Homo sapiens: one gene and its partner. The protein of the gene in region 1 interacts with the protein of each later gene in a pairwise test. Each region holds a gene or a part of one and is shown on either strand. Other genes may lie near its edges.

Region 1 (3,657 bases):
GTAGCTTGCACATACCACTTTACCAGTTTGGGAAGTATAGAAAACATTTTTAGAAATAATTTCATCAAAAGTGCTAAGTTTTTTAGTCATTCCATATTTAAAGAGTTGAGTGTGAGATTTGCTCCTCTCCCTGTGCTAGTTTTACTAGTAAGAGTTCTAGGTTTTTAAAACTGACACCTATTGTTCTTTTTGAAACCAATCTCTTGAAGTTTAGTGGCATACCCATTCACCAAAGTCACTGGCCTTTTCTTTGTTTACATTCTCTTTAAACTCTCCCATATGTTTAATCTTCTGCAGTACCATTGTATCTAGTTCTGTCTTTTTAATAGTGCATTATCAGTAACTCACTATCAGGAAACTCTTTCCTAACAGTGAATGTTTCGTAATATTTAGGTGTTTACTTACTGTTCTTTTCACTCTGTTGCAAACTTTTTTTTTTTAGCTCTTTGTGCAAAATCTTAAATCTGTTTCTCATCTTTACCTGGCTAAACCTGTATCTCCAGTCATGACCTTTTCCCAGTGGAGTTTACCACCATTTCTACTGACAAAGCTGCCTTCTGAATGTTTTTAATTCTGTGGGTAGAATTCTCATTTTATCATTATCTTAGTCAACGTGGGTTTAAAATTTGAAATTATCTCTTAATTTCAAGGTACAGTTAGTAGAAAAATCAGTGACCATTCATTAAGTATCATAGTGTGTGGTATGGCACATGCAATGGTCCAGGTGCTGAAGACTACTTCTTAGAAGGATTTTGTACTGTATTTGGGAAGTTATGATATTATTTATGACTTATTAATTAGTTTTTATTATAAATATTCAGTGACCATAGCCTCTTCAGCATTGGGTGGTAAAGGAAGTCTTCACAAAAGGGGATAGATTGGAGCTCATCATTAAGAATGACTAAGATTTCTCTTGGAAGACACAGATGGGCAGAGGGGCAGGGATTTGGATTGGATCAGAAGGTGTGTATAGTGGAAGAGTAATGGGCAAGATTAGATTAGGACTAGATCTAGCCAGTCTCTTAAGTCTTGGTTCGTCTTCTTTCTGAATGCTAATGATTAGAATTCATGTTTGAATAGTACTGTTGAGTTTGTAAAGCTTGTGTTAGATAGACATTAGTACTTTAATATTTCTGTGACTTAGGAACCATCATCTCTATTTTACAGAAAAGTTAATAGGCTTTGAAAAAGTGATACTAGTAAAGAACAGAATCTGGTGGGCACAGTGGCTCAAGCCTATAATGCCATCAACTTGGGAGACTGAGTCTGGTGTGTTTCATTTCCAGGCATATTTTTATTCTCTGATATCATAGATATCTATAAATAACAATTTTTTTGTTTTAAGTTTGATATAGACATCCTTAGAAAGGTATATATATTTTTACAAATTGTTTTTCTTACTCATTTATTTGATAAATGGACACTATTCTAGGTCCAGGGCATCCAGTGGTTTTGAGGGCAGACGAGACTACCTGCATACTAACATTGCATTGGGGAAAACAAAGTAAATAAACAAAGTTGATAATGTAATATCAGATTAGGGTAAATGCTATAAAAAATGAACAGGGTCAGGGGATAGAGAATGTTGTGAGAATGGGCTGTCATGCTATTTTCAATCAAGTGGTCAGGGAATTCCTCTTTCAGGAGGTGACCTTTGAACAACTGAATTAATTTGAGTGAGTATGCTGCGTTAAGTTACGGGAGAAGAGAATTTAGGGGAGAGAACATCAGATGCAAAGACCTCACATAGAAATAACCTTAGAATACTTGAGAAATGGAAAGAAGTTAAGTGTGGTTAAATGCAATTAGGTAGGATAATGGTTAAGAAATGAGTAAGGAGAAGCCAAGGGCCTGATCATGTATGATATTGTATTCAGAATTCTGGTCTTGAAGCTCCTGTCTTTTTGCCTCCCTCTTCCTTAACTGTCTCTCTGTTGCTCATACACATACTCTCTCACACATACGTACACTACCCTATCTAGCCCCCCATTATATTCTAGTGTTCATGAATCAGTCAGCCAGGCCTGTCTCTTATCTAGCCTAGGAAATGCTATGTTCATGTCTGCCTATATATATATTTTTTTGTTTGTGTGCCTTTGCCTTTGACATTTCCCATCTCATCTCAGACAACCAAACCATGGTTTTACTTCCTGACCCACATGGATTTTATCATACATCCTTGATGTAGATGCAACTGAGGTCAGCCCTTCTTACAGTTCATTTAGTACATAACACTTTATACTCTGTGACCTGTTAGTGACAATTATGCTTTCATTCTCTTTGTTATATCTCTCTATTTTAATGTGGCCAGTTTTGTTTGCCTAGGAAAAATCATCCTACATAGGGCTGGGCAAGACAAGGCACAAGGCATATCCATACATAAGGAGGATATCTTTACTTCCCTGTACCCTTCCCCACCATGGTTCCAGCATAGAAGGCTGGATAGCTGCCAGTAGTTGATCGGCATCCAGAACTGTATCTGGTACTTTAGTAGGCTCTCAGTAAGTGTATTTTGAATGAATCAGTTTATTGACTGTTGAGATTAAACCCTACTTGGCATAACTTTTTTTAAAAAGCCCCATCATGGCTATTCACAATACATGGGATGTAACAAAGAATCAATAATTATTTGTTGAGTGTATGTCAGTTTTACTTTACTCTGTGTTTACATTATCTTTATTTACTTTATGTTATTGTCTGGGCTTTAGCTGAGCACATACATTCTTTTCTGGAAAGATGCACCCCAGTCCAGAATAATATTGATGCTAGAATTTTTCAAAGACAAAGCTATAGCTTTTGGCAATTGTAGGCACAAGAAAGGAAGCATCTTTTGTTACACCATTTTTCCAAACGTTATTCTTGTTACTTTAGTAGGTATTTATCGTCTGTGGTTGGCTGTGCAGCGATCTGCAGGAGATCTTACACATTCTTTTTATTCTTTATTTAGAAATGGGATCTCACTATGTTGCTCAGACTGGACGTGATTGAACTCCTGGGCTCAAGTGAGTCTCCCGAATAACTGGGATTACAGGTGTGTGCCACTGAGCCTGGTTTTTACCAGCTTCTATCGGTGGAGTGCCTGTCACTTCCACCTGTCATCATCAGGAGCTTCTTAATGGTGCAGAACAGTGGTTTACCTGGAGCAAGCTCATTAACCAATATAAAATATCACTTAAAATAAGCCGATAGGAATTATAAAATTAGAAACTGACCCTTTTAAAATGAATTTATTCTCTTTAAATTTATTCAACATACTTAGTTTTACAAATAGATACTTGCCATTTTACTGGCAGTTATAATGATTTATTTGAGGGTTTGGTACATCTTATACAACCGTGAATACAATTTGCATCTAATAATGTGACTTCAGTAGTATCATGATTTTTGTCCAAACCTTCTCAGTCTGGGAAACATTTAAAGAGAATAATGACCTTAGAGAAGAGCTGGATTTCTTTTAAGACTTCTATTCAGATCAGGACACAATCACGTTCAAAATTGACATAGCATGTAACATGGATTTCAGTGAAGAAAAGTACTTCAGAATCAAATTTTAGAAGAGTGTTTTAGGGTTTAGTGGCCTAATCAAAGGGAGTCCAGAAGCTATTTTTGGATAATACATAGGAGGTAGAGCAACCTGGTTTTGCCTCTGGTTATCAT
Region 2 (3,657 bases), on another chromosome or scaffold:
TAAATTAATTTTTTGGAATAATAAAGTTGAATCCCAAATGCTGCCAACATTAAGGTTGCTGTAATCATGCCTTCTGTAAATTTGATGACACCTGCTCTTTCAGTAGGTGTCAAGTGGACAATGAAGACGTTTTTGGACCATGTTCATTTTAGTCCTAGGTCAAAGGTGTTACGTTGTCTCACCATCGTAAGAATTGTATAAATACATCTTGAAACTCCACTCATGAAAATGTTCAAATTGAAAGTAGCCCTGGCCCAAGAGCCCAGAAAAACACAATGACTCATCTCTCCCAAATGTGTTCATTTCTAGGAATGCTTTGGGCCACACCACTGAGAATCCAAATTGGAAGAGACAAAGCTATGGGACAACAAACTAAGTTCTAAAATACCAAGTCTCTAATCCACCTGCCTTTCTGTCCGTGTACCAACCTGTCTTTATTTTGTATACTTTTCTATTTAGGAGCCAAGGATACCATCGCTACTGTCATTCTCAGGCTGGGGAGAGCCGGACTGACTGAGGTTTATACCCACCACTATGGCAAGGGGATGAGATGGCACTTGAAACAGGTCCACAGGCTGCTCACTCTGTTTAACTTTGTCACAGTACTACAAATACACGAGATTGTCTGAAATCTCACAGGGAAAAATGTCATTGTGCAAGTCAAAGAATGGATGGCTTGGCTGAGTTATTAATTTCTGGATCTGATATGATGACATCACAGTCATTATGTTTTGAAGCTAATTTATTTTAAAGACACCTAAGTTAAAAATGGTTTTCTGAAGTTTAAAGTCATATATATATATATATATATATGAATGCACCTATCCATTCCTTCTCAATAGGTAGGTTATAGATGAGCTCTCATGGTTAGCCTGAAATATCTATTTATGAAGCTCTCAGCCTCACAGTAATAAAGTAAACCTATAGAAGTTTTATTCCTTTATAAAGATGCATATTGGTTGAGGCTCTTGGCATGAATTTAGAGTACTTGTTAGTCTGTGGAGTAATGGTTGGAATCTGGGACATAAGACTGGGGCTAAATTTCTTTGCCCTCCTAACCCCAGAGAGTCTTTAGAAAAATAGAAACAAAAGAGCACAAAGTACTTAAGGTGAGACACTGTTGTATTCATAATATAGAGAAATAACCACCATGCCTCATGGACAGTAGATGCAGTTCTCCATGGGGCTACAAAACTGTGCTAGTAATAATTTTAATTGGATGCTATCTTTGCTGCCTTCAAAAAGTATCATAAAATGGAATTATTACAGGCTCCAAATGCACTTATAGTGCTGGCCTCTCACAGAAGGAAACAGATAACATTTATCCTTTGGAGGGCAACAGAAATGGGCTTCTATTTGTTTCGTTTACATGCATCCCCAGTTGCCTTCTAGTTGCTTCTTCTTCCCTATGTCTAAGAGATCAATTTGAATTAGATGCTGCAGAACTGGATGCTAAGTTTTGTGTGGTCCCTCTGCCTTTGGGGATGGCACCACCCCATGGAAAGGTCCTTGGTGCTCCTAGGGGCAGACGGGAAGCACGGGGAGCATACCTGTAGAGGATTGGGTGGCGTGAGCGGTGAAGGCAGGCCATGTCCTGGAGACTGACTAGGTTTCTGCGGGGGGCTGGAGCTCTGCTGGGTTGGAGATGGTTGGTTCTGGTTCTGGGAGTGGGAGTGGGGTTGGTGCTGCTGGGGCTGAGGCGCCTGTTGCAGCTGAGATGTAGGAGCTGGCGGCTGCTGAGAGGCGGGTGGTGGCTGCTGGGGTGGGGTGGGCTGCAGCGGCTGCTGCTGGGACTGCGAGGGCGCCTGTGGGGCTGGTTGCGGGTGCTGGTTGGTTGACGGGGGAGGCTGCTGCTGCTGCTGCTGCTGCTGCTGCTGGAGCTGGAGCTGGAGCTGCTGGAGCTGGGAGTTCAGGGATGAGGTAGCTACAAGGAGAGAAAGCGAATGTGGAGTGAGATAACATGACAAAGTGTCTTGCTGGGTCTTGACAGCCTGTCCAGTGCAAGTGGAGAAGGGTTTCCTTTAGAAAATTCTTGTCCTTGCCCCCTGAAGCTCTTTGGTATTTAAGAGTGTTGTGAGGCACTGGGAGAACAAAGGTCACTTCTGGGGAAAGTTTAGAATTTCTGGAGGACCAGCATATAACACATCAGGCATTACTTTAAAAGGTGGTGAACAATGCAAGCCAAAGGTGTGTGGTAGGAATGGAGATTGTTTTTTAACTACTTTCTCTCTCTCTTCCTTTCCATACTGCATGGGAAATACATTCATGCTTCAAGATTTCATTTAGATTGTTGAAGTCCAACCAGTTTAGTTGTTTTGGTAAGTGTTTGACTGGAGTTAAGAACAAAAAACCAATTGTTTGCAATTGCCTTTACATCCATCATCAATATCATTAATGGTATCATTTTCACTTGCTACTTCAGATCTCCACCCAGTTGCTTAGATGTCTTAGTGTCAAATTTCTAACTGTTTTTTTTTTTTTTTAAAAATTCAAAAGCAGTACATGCTTCTCCATTTTGCAGGGTCAAAAGCCTGAGTCTGAATTTTTTGCCTGCTGATTAAAGAGACAGAACCCCTAAACTGGAGGGATGATAGCAGGTGACTGAACCAAACAGTGTGGTGATTAGACATCAGCACCTGAGGACAGGACAGCACCTAAGGACTGAGGGAATGAAATCATCTTTTAAGATCTTGTTATGAGAAAGGTAGAGTTGGTGGGAGAAAGTGTCTTAGCACTGAGCACGCAAAATTTGTTCTCACATGCCCATGTAGCACTGAACAATTTCTGCAGAAGGAAGCTGGTTAGTTTGACCTAAGAATGGTCTAGAGAAATTTACGGCTAAAAACCAAGTTCACTTTCTTTTTTGCCTAAATCTCAATCTAAAAGCTTTCTAACAAGCCCATGAACAAATAAACATATAAGGATCAATGTCAAACCCACAGGCCTTAGAGGAAAGTGTAGCTGTATTGGTGAAATGACGATGCAACCATTTCCAGGGGTATCAAATACCAATTCTGTGATCTCACATACCATGTAGGGCTTCCAACTTGGTCCAGTTGGGATAGCAAGTCCTCACTGAGCCACTGAACTGCTCTAGGTCTATGCAAGCAGTCCAGTGTGTGGCCTGCCTTGCGTGTAGAGCCAGGGTGTTCTGGGGCTTGTGATGTAATCGTAGAGATAGAGATGGCATGAGGGAGGCCTGGAAAGTACCCCGGCATCATCCCGTTTATTAGACCTTTTAGAGAAAGGCCTGCTTTTGCCATTTCCCCCTTTCTTCTAGTTTACAAAATCACATTTTATCAAAGATGTGGGAGCCCTGCTCTATTCTGACCTCCCTAGATCTTCTGCAGTCTGGAGGATCCTGGGGCAGGGGAGCCTGATCTCTTCTTCTGGTGGAGTTCCAGACTTCAGGGACTTGATTGCATCTGGCCTCCTGCCTGATTCAAATCGAACCTAACCTGATGTCTTTCAGGTGGGGGCACATATGTTAATGCTTATTTCCATGGTTGACTTAAATACCATACTGCTTCATTTTGGTTAGAAAAGCATTTATCTAAATCAGCATTTAGAAACAGGAAAGTCTGGGAATATTGGCAGATAGATGTTGGCAGACGGGTAGGTACAGCAGACCCTAACCTACTAATGAGCCTTGGTCCC

The links.
Region 2: the proteins of SMAD5 (region 1) and POU6F2 interact in binary tests that used the Homo sapiens proteins (3 or more experiments, as listed by UniProt).

What each region holds. Positions count from the first base shown.
Region 1 is NC_000005.10:136,149,728-136,153,384, forward strand, and holds part of SMAD5 (mothers against decapentaplegic homolog 5), read left to right. Parts: intron 1-2,947; exon of another isoform or gene 2,948-3,031; intron 3,032-3,657. UniProt on the Homo sapiens protein: Transcriptional regulator that plays a role in various cellular processes including embryonic development, cell differentiation, angiogenesis and tissue homeostasis.
Region 2 is NC_000007.14:39,337,909-39,341,565, reverse strand, and holds part of POU6F2 (POU domain, class 6, transcription factor 2), read right to left. Parts: exon of another isoform or gene 2,446-3,657; intron 1,925-2,445; coding exon 1,551-1,924; intron 1-1,550. UniProt on the Homo sapiens protein: Probable transcription factor likely to be involved in early steps in the differentiation of amacrine and ganglion cells. Recognizes and binds to the DNA sequence 5'-ATGCAAAT-3'. Isoform 1 does not bind DNA.